4 linked regions of the Homo sapiens genome follow. The protein of the gene in region 4 interacts with the protein of the main gene of each other region in a biochemical or structural test. Each region holds a gene or a part of one and is shown on either strand. Other genes may lie near its edges. The genes, in order: PACSIN3, DYRK1A, CLINT1 and DNM1.

Region 1 (6,448 bases), on a different chromosome or scaffold from region 4:
CGACGACAACCGCGGCCGCAAGAATCAACGCCGCGCCGGGCCAATCCGCAGCCGGGGCGGGGCGACGGCGCGCGGACCGGCCCAAACCTCCTCGCGCGCGTAGTACCCTTCCCCCCGCCCCTCCCACGCCGCAACCCCCAGGTGGAGTCGCCCCCACGCCGCGCAGGCTGCGGGAGGCTGGGGGCGGGGACCCCCACTCCAGCTAATTACAGATCGATGAATAAGGATTAGGCTGCCCAAACACTCCTCGTCCCTCCGGCCCGAACGGGCAGACGCATTGGCCCGCGTCTCGCCCAGCCTTCAGCCGTTCTCGGTTAACAGCAAGCCTGACAGCGAGTCCCCTCCACTCCAGATTAGTATCTCGAAGTTCCAGAGCAGGTACCAAGCAGGCAAACCCTTTTCCAACCCCGGCCCCATAACAGACGCTAGGCCTCTCTCTAGATGCCCTCTGGTGGCCTGGCAAGGGTGTCCTATCAAAAAAATGCACATGAGCCCGACAGTGGTGTTTTTGTTTTTGTGTGTGGGTGTGTGTCAAGTTTTAATACACGCTAGAACAAGCCACAAGAGGGTGCTGCTAGGCCAGAACTACACTCACCCCAAGCCCACCCCAGGAACCCCAAAGCAGAGGTCAGGAACTGAGTCCACAGCTCCTGGGGAGGCCCAGGCACCCCTGAACGCTTCTGTCACCTCTGACCTCCCATCTTGCCCTCAGCCTAGACTCGTCCCTTCCCTACCAGTCCCTTCCCTAGACAAAGGCCCCTCCCCTCCCTGGGTCCCAGGACTTCCTCCCTCAAGGGACAGAGGAGCAGCCAGAGAGCGACGGTTCAGGGCCCTGAGGGTCCGGCTCTCCAGGAGAAGCTGGGCTCTGAACCAGGGTGGGTAAACGTTGCAGAAGGGCTGTCAGGACACTCAGGCGCCCACACACTCCACGTAGTTGGCAGGGTACAGGCCAATGCGGCCACTCTGCAACTGGCCTTGGCACCAGCCCTGCTCGTCCTCCTCACTCATCTTCAGCAGCTCCTCCCCTGGGGGAAAGGGGATTGGTCACTGCCAGTGGCCCTGGCCCAGGCCCTGTTCCTGCAACTGGGTCAAGGACTGAGGGGGATGGTGTGGTCCCAGAGCCCAGCTAGCAAAGACATGGCTCAGGCAGAGGCAGGTCAAGGTCAGCAAGCTGCCCCACCCCAGACCCTGAATGCAGCCACCAGGCACCAGCTATCTGGACCTGGAACAGCTGAAGGGACAGAGGACTGGCCCTTAAGAAGTGGGTATTTGGCTTCCCTTTCTGACACCCCTGCTCAGGCAGATAAGGCAGAGGCTGAAGCTAGGAAAGGGGTCCCAGGGTACCTGCTCGGAAGCTCAGCTCATCAGCTTCCTGGCCAGCGTAGTCATAGAGTGCCCTCACCCGAACCCCGGTGGCAGCCTTCCGGGGACTCTCTTCATCTGACCACTCCTCATCCTGCCCCGTGCTGGAGAGGGGAGGCAAAGGGAGCAGCTCAGAGTGCAAGGAACACGGGGCTGGAGATCTCACCCAGGATCAGGGCAAAGGCCTCCCTACCCCCAGAGGCACCTGGGAGAGTCAGGTGAGGTACTAAAGATTCTAGCTCTACCTCGCCATGCCCGACTGTGAGCAAAGAGGCAATTCCTGCCACACGCAGCTGATTTAAGGCATAAACGAGAGGGAATGTGGGAAATGCCCAGCAAATCTAAACCACTATGAGAACCAGTATCATTACAACTACTAAGTAGGCCCTCAGGTCCCTGGCACCAATTTTCAACCCATTTCAGGTGTGAAAGAAATGAAACCAAGGAGAAAGGAAAGGAGGGCGGGAGGCAGAGCTGTTTCTTTGCCACAGCCGCGCTCCTGGCTCTCACCCTGGGGACCCCGGGGACTGGGGTGGGGGTGCGGTGCCATCTCTTGTAGGCACAATGCTGGTCAGGGTAACCTCATCAGGGCTCCGGCCACCCTTCTCTTTCCGGCTGATTGTCCTCTGTGTGTCCAAGGACCACTCCTGTGGGGACAGTGCTTATAGTCAGGTGGGGCCATCTGAACCACCTTCACTTACTTCATCCCTAGCCCTGGCCGAGCTGAGTGGGAGCCCATCCCACCTCCCATCCCCACCCCGCCTGGAACACATGCCTCGAACTGTGGCCAGTTCATGGCCATGCCTGGCCCGTGGGTGCTGCGCCACCAGCGCAGATCCTCTTCGTCACTGGCTGCCTCAATGCCCTGGTGCAAGTCACGGTGGAGTTCATGGAACCTATGACCCAAGGCACACCCCTCAGTCTAGGAAGTCTAGACCCTGCATCCCTCAGTCCCAGCCAGGGCCTCGGGGAGATGGAGGAGACCCAGTACTACCCCAGATCTCCATGCCCACCAGGCAGTTCATACTTCTCACTGCTGGAAAGGTCCAGGTGCTGGTGTAAGGTGAGCAGCATATCCTTGAAGAAAAGAAGCCGCTGGCGCTCGGCGGCCTGGCAGGTCTCAAAGGCCTGTTCCATGTCCTCCATGTAGCGTGGAGTGTAGCGATGCAGCTCTGCCAGCGTCTGCTCATACTGAGCTTTTGTCTGGGTGGGAGAGGAGGGGCCTGGTGAGAACCAGACCTTCTTCCACCCAGGACTCCACCAGTGTTTACCAGACACTGCCATAGGCTGCTAGACCCAGGGCTAGCCACTAGGGGCAATCAGTCCCAAGACCCAGCTCCTGCCCTCAAGGACCCCAGCAGCCTAACAAGGGAGGTGACATCAGGCACAGCATATAAAAGAGTCTGGTGAGGATTGAAATGAGGTCAACCTACAGGAAAGGATGGGAGAAATCAGAAAAGGCTTCCTGGAGGAGGTGGAAACTGCAGCATCTCAGGATGGGGAGGATTTGCATATCCAGAGCTGCAGGAAAGGACACTTCGGGCAAAGGGTACTGTGCAAGGAAAAGAGCTGGAAGTTCTCAACTGCTGAAGTCATCCCAGTGCCTGAAACTCCATTTCTTTCCCTAGTAAAGCATCACCTTTTGTCAGGTTCCTCCTTTAAATGATCATCTGGAGAGAGGGTGGCAGGTGAGGAATAGGGTAATAAGGGTGCTGGGGACTGGACAAGATGTTCAGGGAGCAAGATTCATTCAGGAAGCCGTGCCCTGGGCGGGGGCCAGGGCTGGGACCTGTGGCCTGTACCTTCTCGGCCTCCTTGGCACAGCGTTCCACCCGTTCCTGCAGTTTGCGCAGCTGCTCCTGGGAGACGGCGCTGTCTGCCTTTGCGTGGCTCTCCCTCGTCTGGGCGGTCTTCTCATCCTTCCGGGCTGCGTGGTAGCTTTTCTTGGAAGCCTCAACCTGGCATGCATGGAGACCACTCTGGACCCTGGATGCCACACCTTGGCCCCCTCGATCCCTTGCAAACAAACAGGAAGGAGCCTGTCTCGGATACCTCCCCCACCCAGCCTCACCTCCTTCAGCCTCTTCAGCCAGGGCTTCTGGGCCTTGCGGAAGCCGTCCTCGGCCGCCCGGCTCTCGCGGAAGCCGCCCAGCACAGGCCGGTGGAAAGCCCCCCGCTGCCAGGCGCGCACCCGCTCACTGTCCTGCCCTTGCAGCTTCTCCCGCACCTCCAGGTGCAGCGCGCTCAGCCGCTCAGCCGCCGTGAAAAAGGCATGCCAGGCCTTCTCCAGTGTGCCATACTGGGGGCCTGCAGGGAGGGACAGGGCTTAGGCCAGGCCTGGGTACCACCCAAAATGAGCCTAGCCCCTCTCACTGGGTGTGAGGCATGGAGGCATGGGGTACGCGCATGGGGTGCAAAGGTGAATGACAACCCTGTCAGCTGGGCTTATTGAATGAGGACCATGTGCCTTATCTCACTGACTCCTTGTCTCAGCCACCATCGTGAGGACAGCGACATTGCCAACATTGAACAGGCAAAACACTGAGGACCAGAGATGTGAACTCGCCCAAAGCATTATGGCTACAACAGGAGCTGAGGGCCGGGCACAGTGGCTCACTCCTGTAATCCCAGCACTTTGGGAGGCCAAGGCGGGTGGATCACAAGGTCAGGAGATCGAGACCATCCTGGCTAACACGGTGAAACCCTGTCTCTACTAAAACTACAAAAAATTAGCCGGGCATGGTGGCGGGCGCCTGTAGTCCCAGCTACTTGGGAGGCTGAGACAGGAAAATCACTTGAACCCGAGAGGGGGAGACTGCAGTGAGCTGAGATCACGCCGCTGTACTCCAGCCTAGGTGACAGAGCGAGACTCTATCTCAAAAAAAAAGAAAAAAAAGAGGAGCTGAGATTCAAACCCATCTCTGTTGTGTAAACACTACACTCCATTGCCTCAAAGGAAGAGCCTGTGTGTGCCCTCGAGGAAGACAGCTTGCAGGGTGGAAAGATCCATGCTCCCAGTCAGAGGGCCTGGGCTCAACCTTCAGCACTTCCTAGCTGTGTGCCTTTAGGCAAGTCCCTTAGCCTCTCTGAGCTTCCAGTTTCTCCTCTAGAAAATGCATAAAACAGGCCCAGGTGCGGTGGCTCATGCCTGTAATCCAGGCCGGGCACGGTGGCTCACGCCTGTAATCTCAGCACTTTGGGAGGCCAAGGAGAAAGGACCGCTAGAGCCCAGGGGTTCAAAACCAGTCTGAGCAACATAGCAAAACCCTATCTCTACAAAAAATACAAAAATTAGCCAAGTGTGGTGGTCCATGCCTGTGATCCCAGCTATTGTGGTCCCAGCTATTCAGGAGGCTGAGGTGGGAGGATCAGTTGAGCGTGGGAGAGGGAGAGGTTGCAGTGATCCATGATTGTACCACTGCACTCCAGCCTGGTGACAGAGTGAGACCCTGTCTCAAAATAAATAAATAATAAACAAAGGAAAGAAGGCCAGATGCAGTGGCTCACGCCTGTAATCCCAGCACTTGGGGAGGCTGAGGTGGGTGGATTACCTGAGGTCAGGAGTTTGAGACCAGCCTGGCCAACATGGTAAAACCCCGTCTTTACTAAAAATACAAAATTAGCCAGGCGTGGTGGTGGGTGCCTGTAATCCCAGCTACTTGGGAGGCTGAAGCAGGAGAACCACTTGAGAGGCGGAGGTTGCAGTGAGCCAACATCATGTCACTGCACTCCAGCATGGGCAACAAGTGCAAAACGTCTCAAAAAAAAAAAAAAAAGAAAGGAAAGAAAATGGGTAAAACAACCATCTCCACAGGGTTGTTGCAACTATCAAAGTAACTCATGAGCATCCTTTATAAACTTTAATAACACCACAGCCATGAGGATGACCAGGAGGATCTTCCCTTTCTAAGGGAGGGTAGACGTGGAGGCCTCAAACTTCCCACGAGACGTGCAAAAAGAAGCTGGCCCGACAGTCCTGCACTCAGCTGCCCTCTGCCCCCTGCGAGGGCCTGGCTCACCCTTCTCCACGGTCCCCCTCCACTTTCGGGCCCAGTCAGCCAACTGCTGGGCATAAGCCTTCTCGATGCGGGCGCGCTCCTGGAAGCAGCTGACCAGGTCCCCGCACAGCCGGTGCCCGTCCTCCACCCGCTGTACCGTGCGCCTGTAGTTGCCAGCCTGGGCATACAGGAAAAGGGTGCCATCACCAGGGAGAAGCTTCCTTTGGGGCTGGGGCTGTCAGATGGGCTCCTCCCCTAGACAAGTAGCTGAGCCCAGGACCCAGCTGCTCACCTCCCAGAAACTGCCCCCTAAGGCCTCCCCTCCAGCGTCCTCTTCTGGAGCCATGGTGTCCCCGCAGCACGGAATGGTGGCGGATTTGGGGCTGTGGAGGGCAGAGGGGTAAGCAGGAAAGCTGGACATTATGTTTCTGGGGATAGGAAAAGACCCTCTCTATACCTGGGCCTCGCCCCACTGCCATCCCCACCACCCAAGGAGTCATCAGAGCTAGGACTTAGCAGGCAGGGTGCTGAAGACCCTAAGAAGGGCCAGGATGGGTGAGGATGGAGTCTCAAAGCTCTTCCTCTCACTGCTCTGCACTTCCCCCCCCGCCCCCCCACATACCTGGGGCCTAGAGATCACTTCAAGGACCCGGGTGTCCAACTCTCAATGCTGCCACCGTGACTCTGCCTTGAAGGAGAACAGAGCGGGGGTGAGGGTGGGGGCCTAGAGCGTCCAGGGCGGTGCCCGGCACCCCCAATATAGCAACTGCTGTCAGAAGCGCCGGATTCCAGGGAGGAGAATGCCAGGCAGGTCACACGATCCAGCCAGGGATTAAATGGCAGGCGGGGGTGGGCGGTGGGCAGAAGGCCCCACTCCCCCAACTGCCGATGAGAGGACTCCTGCCCAGGCTAGGGCCTCTGTTGCCTTCCCTTGAGTGACAAGACAACCCTGTTACCCGAGAGGCCAAGTCAGAGGGTGCCTGGCCACATCCCAGTAGCTCCCTGTACTGAGGAGGGCACGAAGGGAACCAAGAGGCCTGGCTTCTGTGTTGGCCAGGAAGCCCGAACAAGTGTATGTAACTGTCTCC
Region 2 (7,035 bases), on a different chromosome or scaffold from region 4:
TGTCACCCAGGCTGGAGTACAGTGGTGCACTCAGAGCTCACTGCAGCCTTGACCTCCTCCCAGGCTCAAGTGATCCTCTCACCTCAGCTTCCTGAGTAGCTGGGACTACAGGCATGTACCACCATGCCCGGCTATTTGTTTTTTAGATGGAGTCTCGCTCTGTCACCCAAGCTGAAGTGCGGTGGCGCAATCTCGGCTCACTGCAACCTCCACCTCCCAGGTTCAGGCAATTCTCCTGCCTCAGCCTCCTGAGTAACTGGGACTACAGGCATATTTTTCAGTAGAGACAGGGTTTCACCATGTTGGTCAGACTGGTCTTAAACTCTTGACCTCAAATGATCTGTCCACCTTGGCCTCCCAAAGTGCTGGGATTACAGGTGTGAGCCACCGTGCCCGGCCCCATGCCCAGCTAATTTTTAAAAGTTTTTGTGGAGATGGGGTTTTACCATGTTGCCTATGCTAGTCTCAAACTCCTGGGATAAAGCAATCCTCCCACCTTGACCTCCCAAAGTGCTGGGATTACAGGCGTGAGGTACGGCACCCAACCCAGTTTTCAGAGCATGTTAAATAACCACACACACACACACACACACACACACACACACACACACACACACACACAAAATCCCAGAGGCTTAATAAAGTATGGACCTAATAAAGTACTTTTTTAAGTACTTTAAATGAGTGTGCCTATTATATGCTAGGAACCATATTCAGTGGTAGAAAATAATAAACAAAACATAAAAATTCCTGCCAAAAAGAAGTTTATGTTATAGTGGGAAGACAGCAAATACATATACACACAAACACACAATTTTTTTTTTTTTTTAATGGAGTCTTGTTCTGTCTCCCAAGCTAGAGGGCAGTGGCGTGATCTCGGCTCACTGCAAGCTCTGCCTCCTGGGTTCAAGCCATTCTCCTGCCTCAGCCTCCCAAGTAACTGGGATTACAGGCACGCAACACCACACTAGGCTAATTTTTCTATTTTTAGTAGAGACGGGGTTTCACCATATTGGCAGGGCCAGTCTCGAACTCCTGACCTCAAGTGATCTGCCTGCTTCAGCCTCCCAAAGTGCTGCGACTACAGGTGTGAGCCACTGCGCCCGGCATTATCAATAAATAATTAAATACATGATGTCAGATGCTGGCTAAGAACTATGGGATGAGGAGAAGGGGTACTGCAACCGTAAGTGGGGTATATGGTTTCACCGAGAATGTGACATCAGAGCAAACACTAACATCAGCAAAGGAGTATCTCAGAAAAGAGCATTTTAGGCACAGGAAGGAAGAAATACAAAGGGCTATGGGCCTGTAGCTGGCGTTTTCAAGGGACCACAGAGTGAGGGGAGAAGGAGAGACCAGGTGGTGGTGAGAGAACTGGCATCAGAGGAAGTAGGAATCTGTGGGTTACTCAAAGGACCTCGGCCTTTACAATGAGTAACATGGCAAAGTTTTTTTAATATTGTTTAAGCCCAAGAAAGATACTAATTTACACAGTAAGATTTATACTAAAAAAAAAAACAAACTATGACAGTTACTATAAAAGAGTAGCTCACCAGTTCAAGTTGAAATGAATTAAAAGGGGCTGGGCACAGTGGCTCACGCCTGTAATCTCAGCACTTTGGGAGGCTGAGACGGGCAGACCACTTGAGGTCAGGAGTTCGAGAGCAGCCTGGCCAACATGGTGAAACATCAACTCTAGTAAAAATCCAAATATTAGCCAGGCATAGTGGCGCTTGCCTGTAATTCCAGCTACTCGGGAGCCAAGATTGCCCCACTATACTCCAGCCTGAGTGACAGAGCAAGACTCCATCTCCGGGAAAAAAAAAAAAAAAAAAAAAGAAGAATTAAAAGGAAGGATGGAAGAAACAAGTTTCTGACACCACCTATTAACAGCTGTGTAATCCGGTACAAGTCATTAATGCCTTTGGCCTTTCTCTTCTCATTTATAAATAGACTGATCAAGACGTGCAAATTGTCAATTTTTCTTTTAAAAAACAAACAAAACCCCACAGGTGTAGTTTTTAAAACAATGAAAGTCTAATTTCTCTGACTGCAGGGAAGTTAAGGCCTGTCCCTGCCCTCCCATTCACTGCCTCTGACCTTGAAAAATCTTCCAGAACACAGACTGAAAACCTGTAGACTTCAGAACTGCACACAGTCTCTGTAGCCCTACAAGTCTATAATCTCGTTTACTCTACATTATTCAGACTGAGTATCCATCAGTCCTACTGATCATTACTCTTCAACTCCAAATCATAATCTCAAAATTTAGAGTGATGTTTGTATCACTCTTCAGGATGGCCTTCATTCTTTATCATCTTTAAGCTTTCTGTATTGTATTTAAAACCTGTAAAATGTATGCCAAAATACTTAACACTTTCTAACTGTTCTCCTTCATGAGTAGATTAAAATATCCTACTCCTATCTCATAATTCTAAACTTACATGACAACTGACAAATATGAAAAATAGGTATATTCAAACTGACCTCACATTTGAATGATTAAGTAGACATCTTTGCCTAAAAACAACTTTTAAATTACACTGTCACAGATGAAAGACAAAAAGAAATTATGAAAACAGAATTTGTAAAGCAATACATCATTTACCTCATTGGCACCACTGAACAGAGGTTCTCCAGTGTGCATTTCAACCAAAATACACCCGAGGGACCACATATCAATGGCAAGGTCATAAGGCATTCCCAGTAGCACCTCTGGAGACCGATAAAAGCGACTCTGAATATACTGGTATATCTGAAATATATTTCAAAATAGTATTACTTCAATTGCTTAAAACTGCAGTCAGCATTGGATTAAAAACATTGATCTGATATTAACAGAAAAGAATTGGCTAATTCCTGAATTAGGGTTCCATTGATTAACTTCAACATTAGACTACGAATACGGCTTAAAGAACTAAACATTTTGAGGGATTGGTTAATCTGACTGTGAAATGCATAATACGTAAAGATTCAAGCCCTTTCATTTAGTCTAATCCTACCTAGTCATCATGATATTTCTTAAAACAATTATGCCTCACTAGGAAAAAAAAAACACTATTGAAAGCAATGTATTTCCCTAATAATTATTTCTTCCTACTATGGCTGGCACTTAGTTTACCACTAACTTTACAACTAAATAGTATTTAAATTAACCCAAACAATGTATTTCTCAGCGTTAAAAGTCAAGTAACTTCAATATAATATAATTTAAAATTCAGATATTTGTACTCTTGCTGTCTCACAGATAAATCCCAGAAACACTGCCACATAAAGATTCAATTGAGAGCTGTCTCTGACCAATAGCTTCTTCTCTCATCTTCTCTCTCTACCTCCATCCAAGACTTCTTATAGAAAGACAATCCTGAAATGGACTATTTTCAATGAAGTAATGTTAGGATGTCTTCAGAGACCAATTTGTTTCACTTATTAAAAGTGGAAAAGAAATAAAATCCTAACTAAATTTCCTAACACCCAAACCATGCAGCCAGAAAGCTCATGAAATTTTCTGTGGTTCCCACTGAAACCTCCAGCCAAGTCTTCGAGAACAATCTCAGGCCTCCACAGGTAGGTCAACCAACCTTAAGGAACTATGAGAAGAAAGTCTAATTTAAAAGAACTGGGAAGAAGTATTACATTTCCATGGTTTTTATAAGCCAATACCATTGTTAACTCCCTAGGCCCAAACACTCACCACTCCTGAGACTTTTATTTCACAGCTTATGCCAAGAACTTTGTCACCTCCCTATCTAATTTGTTTAAAGCAGTTGCTTTCCCCAAAACACACTTGCCCTACCACCTTCTGATTCTAATCCAACAGATCTAGGGGCAGGACCACTGCAGGTCTATTTTAGAAATAACTTCCCATGTGATGCCAATGAACTTGAATAGTTAAAAACTTATTGTAGGGATAACTGGCTCATTTTGGCTAGACAGAAATAATAATGTTTAATATTAGGACAAAATACATAATTTGGCTTAAATAGGGGGAAATTTTCCCAACTCTATAATCTATTCAAATTACTGTCAAGATGGGCATGTATTTTTCATTCACAATATACTCTACCACATATTAACTACGAGCATCTCTTGATTTTTTGAAGGCATCTAAAACTGCAAACTTTGCTCCCTACTCCAATTTTTAAAAATTACTTTAACATTTGATAGCCTCACTACCATGAGAAGTTGCAGAAAATAACAAAAAGACAGTCCTATTAATTGGCTATAAATCCTTATGATTAAATTAATCTGTTATAGTTAAAACCTGGACAAAAGTAGGACGGGACAGAAAATTTCACTAATTTGGAAAAATAAGAAACAGAAAAGTCAGTAAGAAAAATTAACATCTGTATGTTAGCCGGGTTTCTTTAAAACAGAAGAAATATAGTTTCAATACTTAAAGCAAAAAGAATAGTGCTTAAAATGAGTAAAATATTATCAAATGGTGACACTAATTCCTTTCAAGAGGAGACCCCTATCACTTCTATTTTATACATAAAACAATGCTGTTAGAGTAGTTTTCATAATGCTGGAAGAATGACAGGAAAAAACTGCTTTCCTAAATCAGCTAAACTTATCAGCACTACGAACACATCTGTTTTTAGCAGTCTGAAAAAAACCAGCTTGGATATGTGTCAGAATTTATGTAAATTTTAAATAAGAGTGGGGAAAATAAGACAAACTTATTTATCAAAACAAGTAAGTCTATCAACTGAATTTTCTATACTTATACCATGACTAATGCAAAATTACCTGCATTTTTTTGAACCATCAGTTTTTGAGAAAAAAGATTTATCTTGATCCATCTTCAGAGAAGTATTTTACAGCAAAGATTCAATGTTCTAGTACTGGAAAGTCCCAAAATTTATACTAAAACCTTTACTTGGGAAATATAGTTACAAATCCCCTAATATTTAATCATTCCATCTCCTATTCTCTCCCTTAATCTTTTAGCATACATACAATTTTAAATATACCCATTTCAAAAAAATCAATGTCTTTTGACTCAAAGTATTGCTATTTGCATTTTAAAAGGTATTTCCCCAAAATAGATATCAACACAAGGTAATTAAGTGCTACATTTTAAAGATAAATAAGCATCCTGTAATTGCCTCTAAATGGTATACACCTTATTAACATTTCAAATATCTATTAGGTTGGCGCAAAAGTAATTGCGGTTTTTGCCACTGCAAAAACAGCAACTGCAATGGCGAAAACCGCAATTACTTTTGCGCCAACCTAATACCTACACTGTCCTACCTACTTCTATTTAATTTCTATTTAATTCACAAGTTCTGAAATAATACTTACCCTCTGCCCCAACTGACAAGAACTGCCAAAGTCAACTATCTTGATTGCACTGCGTTTGGGGTTACAAAGAAGGATATTTTCAGGTTTTAGATCACAGTGAATGATACTAAGTTCTGGAGTCGCAAGGAAAAGCAGTGCAGTGCACATCTGTTGCGCAAACTTTCGTGTTAGGTTCAAAGAGACCCCTCGGAAATTGGTGTTTCTCAGCAAGTCATAGAGGTTGTAGGACAGCATTTCAAAAACTAAACAGAGATGGTTTCGAAACATAAAGTGGCGTTTCAAATGCACTGAAAGAGAAAACAGTTTCATTTTAAATTATATATACCAATAAACTGAGAGTAACAAACACATGCACTCTCAAATGTTCTATAACATTATTACATCAAATGCAGAGTTCAGTTAAAGTTTGGAGATCAGCATTTTGTAATAACAGCAGTTTTCAATCAGTTAAGAATATCTAAGTTGCTCTTCTGCTGAATTAAACAGGTACAGCATATGTCGGTAAGTGATATAAGGTAAGCAGTGCTACCAAAATGCCTTGTTTCTCTAAAAGTCAGATCTGAAAACATAAGGACCAAATGGACAAACAGCAGTGAGAATATTTCAGCAATTTTATCTTCATTTATAAAAGAAAGCACTTTTTACTTCCCGAGAGCCCTACCTCACAACTTCCTATGTCTAAGCTCCACCTACTGGGATCTCTGGTTTGTGACAATGCTGTAGTTGGCAGCCCTCTGTGTAGGCTTTGAAATGTATCTGCACTGCTGAACTTTAGATTTCACTGGTAATTTTCTGTCACAATTTTCATTGATAGCCTTTTTTTTTTTTACCCTTTAGGCAAATACAACAAATGTCTGAAAATCATGCTTTGGTAAAAGTATTGGAGGACTTAACTGTGTTTATCAAATTGGTAAGTGACAACTCTTGTGTGAGACTGAAGGTTTGGAAAACTTCAAAATAAAGCTCAGCTACAAGAAGAGATGATAAGGAGGCTTGTGAGTGGGGAAACAGCATAGAATACATAGGTCGCTATCACTGTTGACCCTCTAAAAAGGCTGAATACTCACTAAATTGCCTCAAAGATTGTGCTTTAACTATTAACACTGACGTCACATCAGATGAGGTTATTCGATAAAGTGCTGTCCCTCCCTGTTAAGTCTTATATATACCAAACTGAGCACCTGTAACACAACTGCAATGACATAAAACACCCATCTGTCAAGGTGATTTTCATTTTATCTTATAGTATTACAAAATGAGAGGTTTCTCTACAGATCTATCTGGAATAAACTGATAGTAATCAATGTCTGATCACTAAGAACTGTGGATACATTGTGTTTTCCTGGGAATAGTCCTGGGCTGCCTGCCTCAAAGCAGTGAACATCAATATTGCTTTTAGATCTTTCATGGTATAGGTGATCTAAAGTTAGAATAAGTAACACAATAAAAATAACTACATGGCTATATAGGAGTCTACAGCACAACTCGATACTAAAAATAACAAAAGGAATCCTTAAATGTTACCTAAGAATGTAAAATATCTGCTCTTAGTCACTTCAGTTTATAGGTTTAAAACTAAAAACATAGTTCCATGATACCTCACAATCATGGTCTGTGGATGGCTTTTAATCTCCTGGTTAAGCAGGTGCCACTAAATGAATGCAAAAAGTAACTGCTGTCAGAATTCTAATGTGATTATAAAAATTCCTTTAAGAAGCTCTG
Region 3 (7,035 bases), on a different chromosome or scaffold from region 4:
AATGCTATCGAGCAGCATTGCATGCTACAGAGAAATCATCTGTGAAAGGAAGAATCTATGATGCAGAAAACTTCATTGTTATTTTAAGAAATTGCCACAGCCACCCCAAACTTCAGCAATCCCACAACCCTGATAAGTCAGCAGCCATCAACATGGAGGCAAGATTTTCCACCAGCAGAATGATAAATACCTGCTGAAAGCTCAGATGGCTGTACTTTTTAGCAATAAGATATTTTTAAATTAAGGTATGTACTTTTTTAAACATAATACCATTGTGCATTTAATAGACTACCACATAGTGGAAACATAACTTTTATATGAACTGGGAAACTAAAAATTTGTATGACTTGCTTTATTCCAATATTCACTTTATTGCAGTGGTTTGGAACTAAACCTGTAATATCTCTGAGGTATGCCTGTATAACAATTTTTTTGTTTACATGATGTCTTGTAAAAGATTAGCATAAACTGCTAAATACATATTCTGAAAGTATATCATCTAGATTTAAATCTAGACTATCTTCTAGATGTGCTATCTGTGGCACACTCTTGGCATTCTGTGCCCAATTTCCTCATAAGAAAATTGAACATAACAATGTTGTCACCTTTGTTCTTGGCACATGGCAAATGCTCAATAACTATTAGCTTTTATTATTAGAAATATCTGGATTTAAAGGATATCCTCTGTAATAAATATCAACTTACCAAATTTAATGTATTCATTCAAAAATATTTGAGCGCCTACTATGTGTCATAATTGTTCTAAGAGTTAGTAATACAGCAGTAAACAAAACAAAGTTCCTGCCCTCAAGGAACTTGCATATCAGAGGCAGGAGATGAATACATGTAACAGAGGAAGGCAAGCACAGAAAAAAATAGTGACGAGTGTGAGTGCATACTATGTAATACAGGAGGTCCACTGAACAGAACAGAGAAAGTGAGGGACAGTGGTGGGAGAAGAGATCACAGGCGGGGCAACAAAGAGCCAGATCTGTACAGGCAATTAAGCAATGAGATGAGAAGCCACTGGAGAATTCTGAACCCATTTGACTTAGTATTTTTAAAGAATCCCTCTCGCTGCTGAGTGGACAGCAGATGACAGGGCTAAACATTTTACATGCTTAGTGAGAAACAGGCCATCCTTCAAAGCCCCATTCAGTACCGAACTTATAAGCCAAATACATCAAACTAAGGATATTACTGGCTGGGCACAGTGGCTCACGCCTATAATCCTAGCACTTTGGGAGGCTTGAGGCGGGCGGATTGCCTGAGCTCAAGAGTTTGAGCCCAGCCTGGGGAGCATGATGAAACCCTATCTCTACAAAAAATTAGCCGGGCATGGTGGTAAGCACCTGTAGTCCCTCTTACTTGGGGGACTAAGGTGGGAGGATGGATTGAGCCCAGGAGGTCAAGGCTGCAGTGAGTCAAGATCGTGCATGCCACTGCGCTCCAGCCTGGGTACAAGTGAGACCCTGTCTCAAAAAAAAAAAAAAAAAAAAAAAAAAATTATTTAACCATGGGGGTTTAACTACAAATTAAGACATGTAGTTTCAACCGTATAACCTAAGTCACTTTAAAAAGTGATAAATGAAAAATTAGTATGAGAAAAATTAATAGAAAAAGGCTCAGTATGCCTATTAGCATTGTTCTTTTTTTTAATATTAAAAAAAATTTTTTTAGAGACAAAGTTTCACTCTGTTGCCCAGGCTAGAGTGCAGTGGCACAATCACAGCTCACTGCAGCTTTCAACTCCTGGGTTCAAGTGATCCTCCCATTTCAGCCTCCCATGTAGCTGGGACTATAGGCATGCATCACCATGTCCGGCTAATTTTTTAATTTTTTTGTAGAGACAAGGTCTGTGTTGCCCAGGCTAGTCTTGGACTACTGGGCTCAAGAGATCTTCCCTTCTCGGCCTCCCAAAGTGTTGGGATTACAGTTGTGAGCCACGGCACCTGGCCTTGCACTGTTCTTTAATGATTTACTAAAAATGCATGAAAACAAATGGCAAACAAACAAACAAACAAAAAACCCGAAAATTGAATTTTCAATGCATGCCTTTTTTCTACTATAAAAATATAAGCTATTTGAATGAGAATTCTTGAATGAAACATTTCATTCAATAGTTGTTGAAAAAGCACGCATGTACGTTTACCACATAATGATGAGTGTGTGCAAAATTATAAAAGATTATTTATATTAAAGTTATCTAGAACTTAAATACTGTCCTAAGAATTGAGAAGCTAAATAAAATTCATGTCAAAACAAATATTCTAGGCCAGGCACAGTGGCTCACACCTGCAATTCCAGCATTTTGGGAGGCCACGGTGGGTAGATTGCTTGAGCTCAGGAGTTCGAGACCAGCCTGGGAAATGCGGCAAAACTCCATTTCTACCAAAATACAAAAATTAGCTGGGTGTTGTGACATGTGTCTGTCGTCCCAGCTACTTGGGAGGATCGCTTAAGCTACTTGGGAGGATCGCTTAAACCTAGGAGGCTGAAGCAGAGATGGCACCATTACACTCCAGCCTGAGTGACAGAGCAAGACCCCGTCTCAAAAAAAAAAAAAAAAAAGAAATGAAATATTCTAAAATTGGCTAACTAGACTCTTCTTAAATGAAGTACAAACCATTCATGTGCACTGTTGCACATTAACAAAATCACTCACATTTAATAATTCGTTAGCTAAATCTATCCACAAGTAATAAGTAGCTATAAATTGGCTCAAACATAGGAATATATTACGTTCCTTTACCTGTATTTAATTTTCAGGCAAAAGAGCCCTGGTAAGCCAAATAATTTCTTGCCAATTTGAGGGGTTGAATAACCAGAAAGCCCTTTCTCCAATGTGCTTTCCTTGTATATACTGTTTGTCCATTGTCAAACACCATGAATTTGGTATCACATATTTTAGAGGATTCTTTTTCTTGATATTGTTCAGTCTCTTAAGAATAAATTGTCTGCTTCAATTTGCATTTATGAAATAAATCTTTTTATGTTTTAGTAATGTTTTACATTAGCAGTTACTTTAAAATCTTGAGAATACACAAAACAAGCTGAACAAAATATTAAGAATTGGCAGATGGAATTCGCGATATGTCTTTCCAAAGACTTTATTCCTCAACATGTCTTTTGAAAGGGTATTTCTGCAATATGCTTTGCAATATTAAAGTAGAAGCCATTTATGATTTAGCAAAAATAATACAAGGCATAAACAACAGAGGTATTTAAATTAGCTGTCCTATATGTAGGCTAAACTGAGTCTTAAGAGAGAGTACTCACTGAAAATAATGATTTCATGGATGAAGATATAGTTCCTACATACTTACAAATAACCTAGTCTGACAATGATATCTCTATTTTCACAAACACTGTATTCCTTTGATTTTTCTAGTGTTATACTGTTTTGTGTGTAACAGTAATAACAGTAATAGATGTTTCAAGAGTTTACTGTATGTCAAGTACTATACTGTTTCACATTTAATCCTCATAATCCTATAAAATATCATCTCTATTTTACAGAGAAATAAAGATACCATTCTAACACATAAGATCACCGTTTCTAGTAGCAGACCTAAGATTTCAATCCAGTTCTCACCTCTGAACCACTAGCTATTCCCACATTTATTAAACACCATCTGGAGGCACCTAAGTATAGTGGCAAAGTATATTTGGCTAGCAAATTATTATAAAAATACATAGATGGACAAACACACATAATTAAGCTAAACAAGGAAAGCTCACATGAAGCGTTAACCTGAAAAACACAGAAGAGTAAACAGTAAAATATGTTGTCACCAAAGGTAGCTGAGACTAAAAAGTTAACTGTATATAAGAACCTTCAAAAGTACTAAAAATGTACTTTGAATCTGTGAAGTGATCTTCATTAAAACAAACATTGGAAACAAGTAGGAAAATAATATAAGCATACAAAAGGCCAGAGGCAATGGCTCATGCCTGTAATCCCAGCCCTTTGGGAGGCTAAGGCAGGCAGATCACATGAAGTCAGGAGTTCGAGACCAGCCTGGCCAAAGTGATGAAACCCCGTCTCTACAAAAATTAGCTGGGCATGGTGGCACATGCCTGTAATCCCAGCTACTTGGGTGGCTAAGGCAGGAGACTCGCTGGAACCTGGGAGGCAGAGGCCAGTCGCAGTGAGTTGAGATCACACCATGGCACTCCAGCCTGGGAGACAGAGCAAGACTCCATCTCAAGAAAGAAAGAAAAAAAAAAAAGTCCAGAAAAAGACTCAACTGTAGAGCCATATTGTGAAACCTTGGATTACTAGCAAATGGCACTCAAAATAAAAAAGGCTAAGTACTTTCAATGGACATATCAGTAAACAGATGAAAAACTGCTTTGTAGGCCGGGCACGGAGGCTCACGCCTGTAATCCCAGCACTTTGGGAGTCTGAGGCAGGTGGATCACCTGAGGTCAAGAGTTCAAGACCAGCCTGGCCAACATGACGAAATCTCGTCTCTACTAAAATTACAAAAATTAGCCGGGCATGGTGGCACGTGCCTGTAATCCCAGCTACTCAGGAGGCTGAAGCAAGAGAATTGCTTGAACCCAGGAGGCAGAGGTTGCAGTGAGCCAATATCGCACCATTGCACTCCAGCCTGGGCAACGAGAGCGAGACACCATCTCAAAAAAAAAAAAAAAAAAAAAAAAAGAAAAACTGCTTGTAAACTAATACTAAAGTGTGCAAGAAAACATAAGAGGCAGTTAAGTGCTTTTTAAAAGCACCCTGACAGTAGTACTAAATAGATTAAACTACAGAAAATTACCCCTAAGAAATGCTAGCAGAGATAAACCAAACTCATCTTTCTTTGGAATTAAATTCCTAATATCTACTTGTGTCCAGTTACTAGAAAAGGAGGAGAATAATTAATTCATTGTTTCAGCAATAACAATTACTTATAATCGGTTCAAAGAAAAGTTGACATGGGAAGACTAGAAAGCTGACAACTATCTTACTATCTCTGCTTTCAAATTCCAAGAAGCAAACTGAACAGAGATTTACTGGTAAGATAAAGAAAATAAAGGGGATGATATCTGAAGACTGAAAGAAAAGAAAAGAAAAATAATCCATTCAAGTTGTAGCATATTTGTAGTGGCAAGGTTCTTGAAGGCAGGTATTGTATGTTTCGAGTTCAGAAAATAGAGTACTAGACCAGGCGCAATGGCTCCCGCCTGTAATCCCTGCGCTTCAGGATGCTGAGGCAGGCAGACTGCCTGAGCCCAGGAGTTCAAGACTAGCCTGGGCAACATAGCAAGAACCCTTCTCCACAAAAAAATTTTTTAAAATTAGCCACGCATGGAGGCGCAGCTGTGGTCCCAGCTGCAGTGTGCATGTTTGCATCACTGTGCTCCAGCCTGGACAACTGAGTGTGACCCTGTCTCAAAAATAAAAAATAAAAAGAAACCAGACTACTAATCCAATAAATAACAAATGTATTGCCTGTTAAAATAAATGAATATACTATTCTTTATAAAAGCAAAAGTTTCTCCCTCTGGAGTCAGGAGACTAGAACAGCAGTTTCTACAGCTCTATTACATTATCTAAACATTTAGGAACTAAAACCAAGCAAATATACATCAATAAAAATCAACTTATGAGGGAAAATGCAAGCTATGCTTAGGAGAATAACTTAAAATGGACTACCCATAGCTGTTGCCTTAGGACCTTAGCCAGAGCTGTTTGAATCACTATCAAAAAAAGGGCCACTGAGGCTGGGCAAGGTGGCTCATGCCTGTAATCCCAGCACTTTGGGAGGCCGAGGTGGGTGGATCACCTGAGGTCACAAGTTTGAGACCAGCCTGGCCAACACAGCAAAACCTCAGCTGTATGAAAAATACAAAAATTAGCCAGGCATGGAGGTAGACGCCTGTAATCCCAGCTACTCGGGAGGCTGAGGCAGGAGAATCATTTGAACCCGGGAGGTAGAGATTGCAGTGGGCTGAAATCACGCCATTGCACTTCAGCCTGGGGGATAAAGTGAACTGTCTCCGAAAAAAAAAAAAGGCGGGGGGGGGGGCGGGTCACTGATGAAAGAGATTTACCACTAATATTACTCCTTGCAAGGAAAGAGAAGGATTCGCTGAGCTTGAACAAATAAGTAGCAGTTTTGATCTACCACTACCATGTCACCTTCATTACATTCCTCAAATCTAGAGAGAAAATAGAACTGCAGCAACTTTCAATTTTACCATGTATAGGATGACAAAATATAAACATGTCCAATTTTATTACAGCCACAAGTAAAGATAGGTCATAGGATGACAATGATTAAGCTAGTGCTCCTAGTTGGTGGGAATGGTGCCACTTATCCTTTCCTGCCACATCGCCTTTTATGCAACTTGACGAGTGGGAAGATACTGGCATTCCAAGCTCTGGCAGGCCTATGGCTTTATCTGCTTCCCTCAGTTCCACAATGTTCTGCAAAACAAATCCCTCTACTGCCACCAGGAGGTGCAGCGATTGTGGAAAATATACCCCCACTTCCAGAAAAAGTCTTCAAGGTCTCAAAAGCCAGTGTTTGAAATACATCATTATCACTTTGAGTAGCTGAGATGGGTGGATCACCTGAGGTCAGGAGTTCAAGACCAGCCTGGCCAACATGGCGAAACCCCGTGTCTACTAAAAATACACAGATTAGCTGGGTGTGGTGGCAGGCACCTGTAATTCCAGCTACTAGGGAGGCTGAGGCAGGAGACTCGCTTGAACCCCAGAAGTGTAAGCTGCAGTGAGCTGAGATCTCGCCACTGCACTTCAGCCCCGGGAACAAGAGCGAAACCCCATCTCAAAAAAAAAAAAGAAATACATCATTACACTTAAGAGCCGCTACCATACTGAATCTAAGAGTGGCTCCAGGAAACACATTTTTCAGAGTACATTTCTTTTTCTGAAGTAAAACCTCACTGGGTATCAATATACACTAAAAGTCCTAGTCTTCCTGAGTCATGGTCTTATTTATTGCATAAAATATTTAAGTATAACATTTATTGATTACCACTTTTTAAGAAAATTTCCCTTTT
Region 4 (7,000 bases):
CTCCAGGGGCTTTCCAGGAAAAATGTCCCTTGGAAAAGATGTGGTCTTTTCACCACCCCCAGCAGCACCCTAGTAATGGCTTAGCCCTTCCCCTCCCCTGAGCTCCAGAGAGAACACAACCAGCAGAGGAGACATTCCCCATCATCCAGAAATGGGTTTTATTCTCAGCCGAGGGACAGCAGGACTGGTAGAAACTGTCAGGCCACACGGCTGCCTGCACAGCACCCCCATGCTTGGTAGGGGGTGGGAGGGATGGCGGGGGCTGGCTGTCCACAGGCCGGGCATGACAAGGAGGCTCACTGGAGGTGGCACACTTTGGAGTGGGATGTCGGGGGACAGCGTTCTCTGGTAGTTGGGCCACAAGACTCCACAAGGATAGCACAGTGACTGATTCCCAGCGCTAGAGGCGAGGCGGTTGGCCATGTGTAGGTGTGTATATATATGAGTATTTATAGATATTTATAGAACAGGGCAAGGGCATACCACAGAAGGGGCACAAGTTTTCACCAACGGTCACACCTGAATGTATCAGCTCACCACTACAACAGATTAAGTCACAGATGAAGGGGGCTGGCTTTGGGGCTGGGGGAGCCACTGTCAAGTCACAGAACAGCCGTCCAGGCAGGCTTGGAAAGGGAGGTCTCCGAGAAGAGGAGGGATCTGTTTAGAGGTCGAAGGGGGGCCTGGGGCTCTCAGGACGGGATGGACTTGCCTGACCCGATCGGCTGGCAGTTGGAGAGAAAGCAGAGAGAAAACGGGAGAGAAAAGCGAGGAGAGAGCTGGTAAGGCAAGCGCAGCACACGGCCGGGGCCGGCCGCGCCGCAGCAGTGGTGGGAGGGCCGGGGAGGGGAGGCTGCAGGTGTGGGTGTGGCAAGGTTCCTGGAAAAGGGGCTGGAAGGGAAAGGGGAGGAAGATGGAGGGAGGAGCCGTAGCTTCACAGATAGCGCCTGGGGGCTGTGGCGGCCCTCCCCACCCCACACACGCTGGCCTCTCACACGGCACCCAGGCAGGGCACCCGCAATTCAGGCTGATGCTCGGCCCCCTCGGGCTTCCCTCTTCTCTGGTCACCCTGTCTTCCAACCCACTGGCCTGGGGCCACCCCTTGCCTTGGGGAGCCCCATGCAACAGCCACCAGGCCTGATAGAGAAAGAACACTGCTTGAACCAGGAGGGTGAAACTAAAAGGGATGGCTGGAGGGAGCGCCGGAGGCCCCTCTGGGTGTTCAGAAAACCCAGGACCCTCTGAAGGGACCCTGGGGGAGGCAGGGAGGGCAGGCAGCCGGATGCCAGTGGCCATAGACTTATAAGTCTAAGAGGGGAGCCTCAGCTGGTCGGGGGGCTGCAGGTCTCGTAGGTGAGGCTGGGCCCTTCCTGCTGGGAAAAGCAGAAGAGCGAGAGTCAGTGGCAGGAGAATGGGGGGTGGGCTCACTGGGCGGAGCTCAGCTGGGCCAGCAGGCACGGTCGTCCCCTTGGCTGAATGGCACAAGTGACCCTAGGAGCAACAGGCCAAGGTGCGTGAGCCCGCTGGCTGGCTACGGTGCTTCAGCTGGGGCCAGGGACACTGCCTTCAGTCACACTAGCAGCTATGACGGTACCTGGGAGGGAGGGAAGGGGGCTGTGTGTCCCTGCCTGGCCTGTGAGGTATGTCGTGGGATGACCGTGTGTATGGGACTCTCAAGCTTTTACCCTAGGTCACCACTGGATTGCCGGCAGATAGAGGAGGTGGGACCCTGACTCTCACCCCTGCTCTACGGTGGATTTGGCTCTCAGCACTCCCAGGCTGGGAGCTGGATGCCCTACCCAGGGAGCATGACTCAGACTGCACACCACGCACGGTGTGCCCAGGATAACGTTCCTAGGCCTCTGGCCGCCTCAGAGTCCAGCCCCACACACGACCCCCTCCAAGCTCCCAGCCTTTACACCATAAACCACGAGCTCTCTGCCCTCTCTGACGGCTCCAGAGAGCACCCATGTCTGCCAGCTTGGGCGCGGAGCCTGTTCCAAGAGCCTCCAGGCTCAGCCATGGAGGCCTTGGGCAGTGGCACTGAGTCCCGAGGCTCGCAGGGAAGGGAGGTGAGAGAGCCAGCGGCACAAGGACAGAAAGAGGAAAGAGCAAGTCTGCAGCTGCAGAAGGGAGGGGCGGGGAGCCTGGCTCTGAGGTCCCAGGTGCGCGCCCCGTGTGGAGCTAGTGCAGCGGGGCAGACACACCGTTCATGCAGCAGGCGGTGAGGCATGTACCTACCATGGCTGACGCTCCTCAGGGGTCACTGATAGTGATTCTGAAAGACAGCACGAAATCAACATGGCAGTTCACACGCACGGGTGGGGCCGGCCTGGGGGTGGGGGACACACACACGCACACGCCCGGGCGTGCACACACATGCTGTGAGGCCCCATGGCCCACATGCACACGCTAACACACATGCCCACAAACAACACGCATACGCCTCCTTCCCCGCCACCTCCCAGTGCCCAGCACCCTCACTGGCCGGCGGCGCGTGCAGCATGGATCTGGGGCATGCAGCCACTCAGCACACTGAAGCACACGTGTGGGCAGAGTCACAACACAGAAGCTCACCCGCACACAGAGGCATTTGCACCAGCTCCCTGCACACTCGTGCCTGGTGTGCTTAGAGGATCACCCGTGCTGCTCATGGAGATAGGGCTTGCTCGCTAAAGTCCAGCTGTCATTTCTCCACCTAAGAGCCTTCTGTGGTTCCCTACTGCCCACAGCATTGAGCCCCAACAAGTCAAACTTTTCAGACTTTGAAGGTTCTCCACCTTGCGCCCCACCCTGCCCACAGAGCTCTTCCTCATTCTGTCTCTGTTCTCTGCTTTGTCCAGTGGCTGTCCTCGTTGCAGCCCACACTACACCTCTGCCCACACTGCAGCTCTTGGCCCAGATACCCTCCTGATTCCTTGCCACGTAAGCCTATCTCAGCCATGCCTCAGACTGCACTGAAGTCAGGTTGCCTTGAAGAAGCTCTCCCAGACTGCTCTTTTCCCCAAGGTAGGGTCATGATTTGCCAAATGTTTCATGTGTGTTAGCAAGACTGGAGTTGGGGCAGGCATCAAACCTTACATCACAGATCTCACACCGCACCATAGACCTGGGTGCCAAATACCCTGAAGAATCTGAACTCACGTTGGCAGTTAGCAAAGTGCTCCTACGGCTGCATCTGCAGTTAACACAGCATCCCTATAGCCACTGTCTCCCTCGATCCCCACAACCGCCCTGGGAAAAAGGCAGAATGTCATCATTTGATAGAAGGGATGCTGAGGCTCTGGGAGGGAAAGAGACGTGTCTAAAGGCCCAGGGTGAAGCAGCATCTCTGGACTCCCAGTCCAGTCCTCTTGCCCAATACCATGCTGCTTGCCTCTACGCATCTGCTTTGGTCATCAGAGCATCATAGGGCAAGCCCCAATCCCTGCCTCATTTTGGTTTATGGGTGCTAGACCGACAGCCCTACCCTCCAGCCATGCAGAAACAAAACAGATGCTATTGTTCTGCTGTGTTCTTCCTTAGAGAATGTGGCCAGTGGAAACAGGGCAGACTGGGAATTGGAGTGAACTTCCTTGAAAGAGAGTCATGGGTCAAGAAGGTCAAGCCAAAGGATGTAGTAGAAAGCTTTTCCCTAGAAATCTTTGGGAATGAAGCAGGCTTCAAGCACTCCCATCCCTGCCCCTGCCGCCACCCCTACCACATTGGTTTAGACTGGGTAGGGCCAGAAGTCGCGGAGGGGGTGGTTGGGGGGAGGAAAAAAGCCATCAGTTTGCCCACGGCCCAGGCTGCTTCCCCAGCTGCTCCTGTCCTAGCCCGGGCCTGGGTGCCATGCTTACACTCTCACACTCGTGTGCACGCCCACACACACATCACACACCTTTCTAGTCACACAGTCACAGCCTGGCCTCTGCTCCTGTGGGCCAGTGGCTGGACACCCCCTGGGATGGCTCAAAGGAGTCAGGGCTGGGAAGTGGGGACATCAGGGTAGCTGAAGGAAATCCACACACTCAGAGCAGATCGGGGTTCAGAGTCAGACCTAAGGTAGGCTCCCCAGGGGCTGGGAGAGGAATTGGACGGAATGGAGGATGGAGGACAGCAAGAAGAAGAAAGGAGGAGGAATGCAACGTGTGGGCGGCCGCCAAGAGTGAAAATAGAGGGAAGCGCCATGCAAGTGCTGGAAAGAAGGGGGCAGGTGGGACGAGCCCCACAGCCCCCTCCCCAGAAACGACCACCTCCGGGACTCAGCGCTCCCTCGGGGGCAGGCTCCGCCAGCCCTCGGCCACACGTGGCGTGGCTCCGGCACCCAGAGTCCGATTGCCTGGGATAGAAACGGCCGGTTCTGGCGGCCAGGTCCGATGCTCTGGAATCCAGCCCCATTTCCCTCCCGGCCACGCCCGTCCGGCAGCCTCTCCAGCCGCATTCAGCCCCTACTCACCTGGGGACCCCGGGCGGGGCGCGGTTGGGGCGCGAGGGCACCTGAGGGGGAGGGCCGAAAGGGTCAGGGGAAGCCCCCGGCCTGGAGGGCACGGGGGGCGCCCCCCCCAGGGCGGACCCAGCAGGCGGAGGCCCAGGAGCAGGGCCCCGCGACCCGGGCCGGGCTGGGGGCACGGCGGGGGCTCGGCGCTGCGGCGTGGGGCTGGACGTGGGCGACCTGAGGGCGACAGGGAGCGAGGAACAAGGAGAGGCGAGATGAGCAGCTCCGCCCACCCAGAGGCCCCGCCCCAGCCCAGTGCTGGCCACGCCCATGCACGCAAGCCCCTCCCTGCCGCACCCCTAAGGCGGTCGCCGGAGCTTAAGCCCCGCCCCCAGCGGCGCCAACGCCCCAGCTCCACCCAGCCTTGCAGCCAGCTCTCCACGGCAAGCCCCGCCCCGCGACAAGCCCCGCCCTCTCTAAGCTCCGCCCCTCGCTCCAGGTGGGAGCCACCCCGGTGACGCGGGCGCGCCACTGCCCGGTCCCGGCATTCCTCCCGCGGGCCCCGGGCTGGGGGGCTTTGGGGCCGTGGGGGCCGGCCCTGGTACCTGCGTCCGGCCGGTACGCTCTGCACCTGCAGCCAGGAGTCGTCCACGGGCGGGGGCATGGGCGTGCTGACGGTGGTCGTGTTGATGTCGCCGATGATGCTGAGCGCCTCCTTCAGTGCGTGGTACATGCGCAGCATCTCGTCGCGCCGCTGTGCCTGCTCCGCCGACTCCTCCATCAGCGTGTTCTGGTCCCCACACGAGTACAGGTTGGCCAGCAGCTCCGAGAAGATGAACTCCTTGGTCTGCGAGTAGGCAAAGAGGGAAGGAGGTGGGGACCTGATGCCTGTGCCGCCCTGGCCGCCCCACCGGGCCCTGCTGGGACTGTGAGCTGGTGTGGCTTTTCAGACGCGGCTCCTACACTGCGTAGACTGGAAGATTCACCTCCCCACCGCGCTTTTCTCACTCAGATGAGGACACTGAGGTCCACAGGAAAAGTCATCTGACCAAGGTCACAGAACCGGGAGGGGACTTAGGACCTATCATGCCACCAGAACTCTTGTCTACTCAGTTGTTTTTTTTTTTCTTCTTCCTGGAGATAGGGTCTCGCTCTTTCACCAGGCTGGAGTACAGTGGGGAGATTACCACTCACTGTAGCCTCAACCTCCTGGGCTCAAAGTTATCTTCCAATGTCAGCCTCTCCAGTAGCTAGGACTACAGGCACGTGCTACCACCAACCCCAGCTATTCTTTTTTTTTTTTTTGAGACGGAGTTTCACTCTTGTTACCCACGCTGGAGTGTAATGGCACAATCTCAGCTCACCGCAACCTCCGCCTCCCGGGTTCAAGCAATTCTCCTGCCTCAGCCTCCTGAGTAGCTGGGATTACAGGCATGTGCCACCACGCCCGGCTAATTTTGTATTTTTAATAGAGATGGGGTTTCTCCATGTTGGTCAGGCTGGTCTCAAAATCCCAACTTCAGGTGATCTGCGCACCTCGGCCTCCCAAAGTGCTGGGATTACAGGCATGAACTACCGCGCCCGGCCAACCCCCGCTATTCTTTAAAATTTTTGTGTAGAGACAAAGTCTCACTGTGTTGCCCAAGCTGGTCTTGAACTCCTGGGCTCAAGTGATCCTCCTGCCTTGTCCTCCCAAAGTGCTGGGATTACAGGCATGAGCCACCGTGCACAGCCCCTCATTATATTTCTTCTTCTTTTTTTTTTTTTTTGAGATGGAGTCTCGCTCTGTCGGCCAGGCTGGAGTGCAGTGGCAGGATCTCGGTTCACTGCAACCTCCGCCTCCTGGGTTCAAGTGATTCTCCTGCCTCAGCCTCCCGAGTAGCTGCAATTACAGGCTCACGCTACCACACCTGGCTAATTGTTCTATTTTTAGTAGAGATGGGGTTTCACCATGTTGGCCAGGCTGGTCTTAAACTCCTGACCTCACGTGATCCACCTGCCTTGGCCTCCCAAAGTGCTGGGATTACAGGTGTGAGCCACCGCGCCCAGCCCCTCATGATATTTCTATTGGACAGCTCTGGTCTGGACCGTGCCTCCCTCCCTGGACCTGGTCCCATAGGGCTGGTTGGCATCTCCCCCAGGCCAACATGGCCACCTGCATCCCCAGTGCCACAGGATTTCCCTGCCCCCATGCAGTGGAGCACGCACATTGTTAATCATGAGGTGCATGATGGTCTTGGGCATGAGGTCCCTCACGGTCTTGTTGACAATGGCCATGTATGAGTCCACAAGATTCCGGATGGTCTCCACTTGCCGTTCCAGCTGTGGGTCCATGGAATGCATGAAGCTGTCGGAGCCATTCTCCTCGGTCTCGCTGGCCTGCCATGGAGAACACAAGGGCATCAGGTGGCCAGGCCATGCAGCCAGGCTCCAGGCATCCCCAGGATCTCAGCCCCTCCAAGGGTACCCAGAATATTGAGGCACAGAGAGAAGCGACTGGCCTGAATACATACCTGGCTCCGCATCCCTGTGCCTCTCAGGACCCTAGACTCCCCTGATTCAGCCTTGTCTTGGTTCTGACTC

Evidence for each region.
Region 1: the proteins of DNM1 (region 4) and PACSIN3 form a complex in vitro, tested with the Homo sapiens proteins (one study listed by BioGRID).
Region 2: the proteins of DNM1 (region 4) and DYRK1A form a complex in vitro, tested with the Homo sapiens proteins (one study listed by BioGRID).
Region 3: the proteins of DNM1 (region 4) and CLINT1 form a complex in vitro, tested with the Homo sapiens proteins (one study listed by BioGRID).

What each region holds. Positions count from the first base shown.
Region 1 is NC_000011.10:47,177,022-47,183,469, forward strand, and holds the end of PACSIN3 (protein kinase C and casein kinase substrate in neurons protein 3), read right to left. Parts: intron 6,049-6,448; 5' UTR 5,983-6,048; intron 5,789-5,982; exon of another isoform or gene 5,782-5,788; coding exon of another isoform or gene 5,707-5,781; coding exon 5,653-5,706; intron 5,539-5,652; coding exon 5,382-5,538; intron 3,670-5,381; coding exon 3,434-3,669; intron 3,321-3,433; coding exon 3,165-3,320; intron 2,717-3,164; exon of another isoform or gene 2,590-2,716; intron 2,566-2,589; coding exon 2,390-2,565; intron 2,259-2,389; coding exon 2,138-2,258; intron 2,010-2,137; coding exon 1,873-2,009; intron 1,467-1,872; coding exon 1,345-1,466; intron 1,026-1,344; coding exon 910-1,025; 3' UTR 501-909; downstream 1-500.
Region 2 is NC_000021.9:37,488,740-37,495,774, reverse strand, and holds part of DYRK1A (dual specificity tyrosine-phosphorylation-regulated kinase 1A), read right to left. Parts: intron 6,224-7,035; exon of another isoform or gene 6,151-6,223; intron 5,829-6,150; exon of another isoform or gene 5,730-5,828; intron 5,601-5,729; coding exon 5,314-5,600; intron 2,759-5,313; coding exon 2,612-2,758; intron 1-2,611. UniProt on the Homo sapiens protein: Dual-specificity kinase which possesses both serine/threonine and tyrosine kinase activities. Exhibits a substrate preference for proline at position P+1 and arginine at position P-3.
Region 3 is NC_000005.10:157,849,134-157,856,168, forward strand, and holds part of CLINT1 (clathrin interactor 1), read right to left. Parts: intron 1-7,035. UniProt on the Homo sapiens protein: Binds to membranes enriched in phosphatidylinositol 4,5-bisphosphate (PtdIns(4,5)P2). May have a role in transport via clathrin-coated vesicles from the trans-Golgi network to endosomes. Stimulates clathrin assembly.
Region 4 is NC_000009.12:128,248,379-128,255,378, reverse strand, and holds the end of DNM1 (dynamin-1), read right to left. Parts: intron 6,797-7,000; coding exon 6,626-6,796; intron 5,265-6,625; coding exon 5,023-5,264; intron 4,655-5,022; coding exon 4,439-4,654; intron 2,279-4,438; coding exon of another isoform or gene 2,257-2,278; exon of another isoform or gene 2,242-2,256; intron 1,371-2,241; coding exon of another isoform or gene 1,301-1,370; exon of another isoform or gene 726-1,300; coding exon 665-725; 3' UTR 135-664; downstream 1-134. UniProt on the Homo sapiens protein: Catalyzes the hydrolysis of GTP and utilizes this energy to mediate vesicle scission and participates in many forms of endocytosis, such as clathrin-mediated endocytosis or synaptic vesicle endocytosis as well as rapid endocytosis (RE).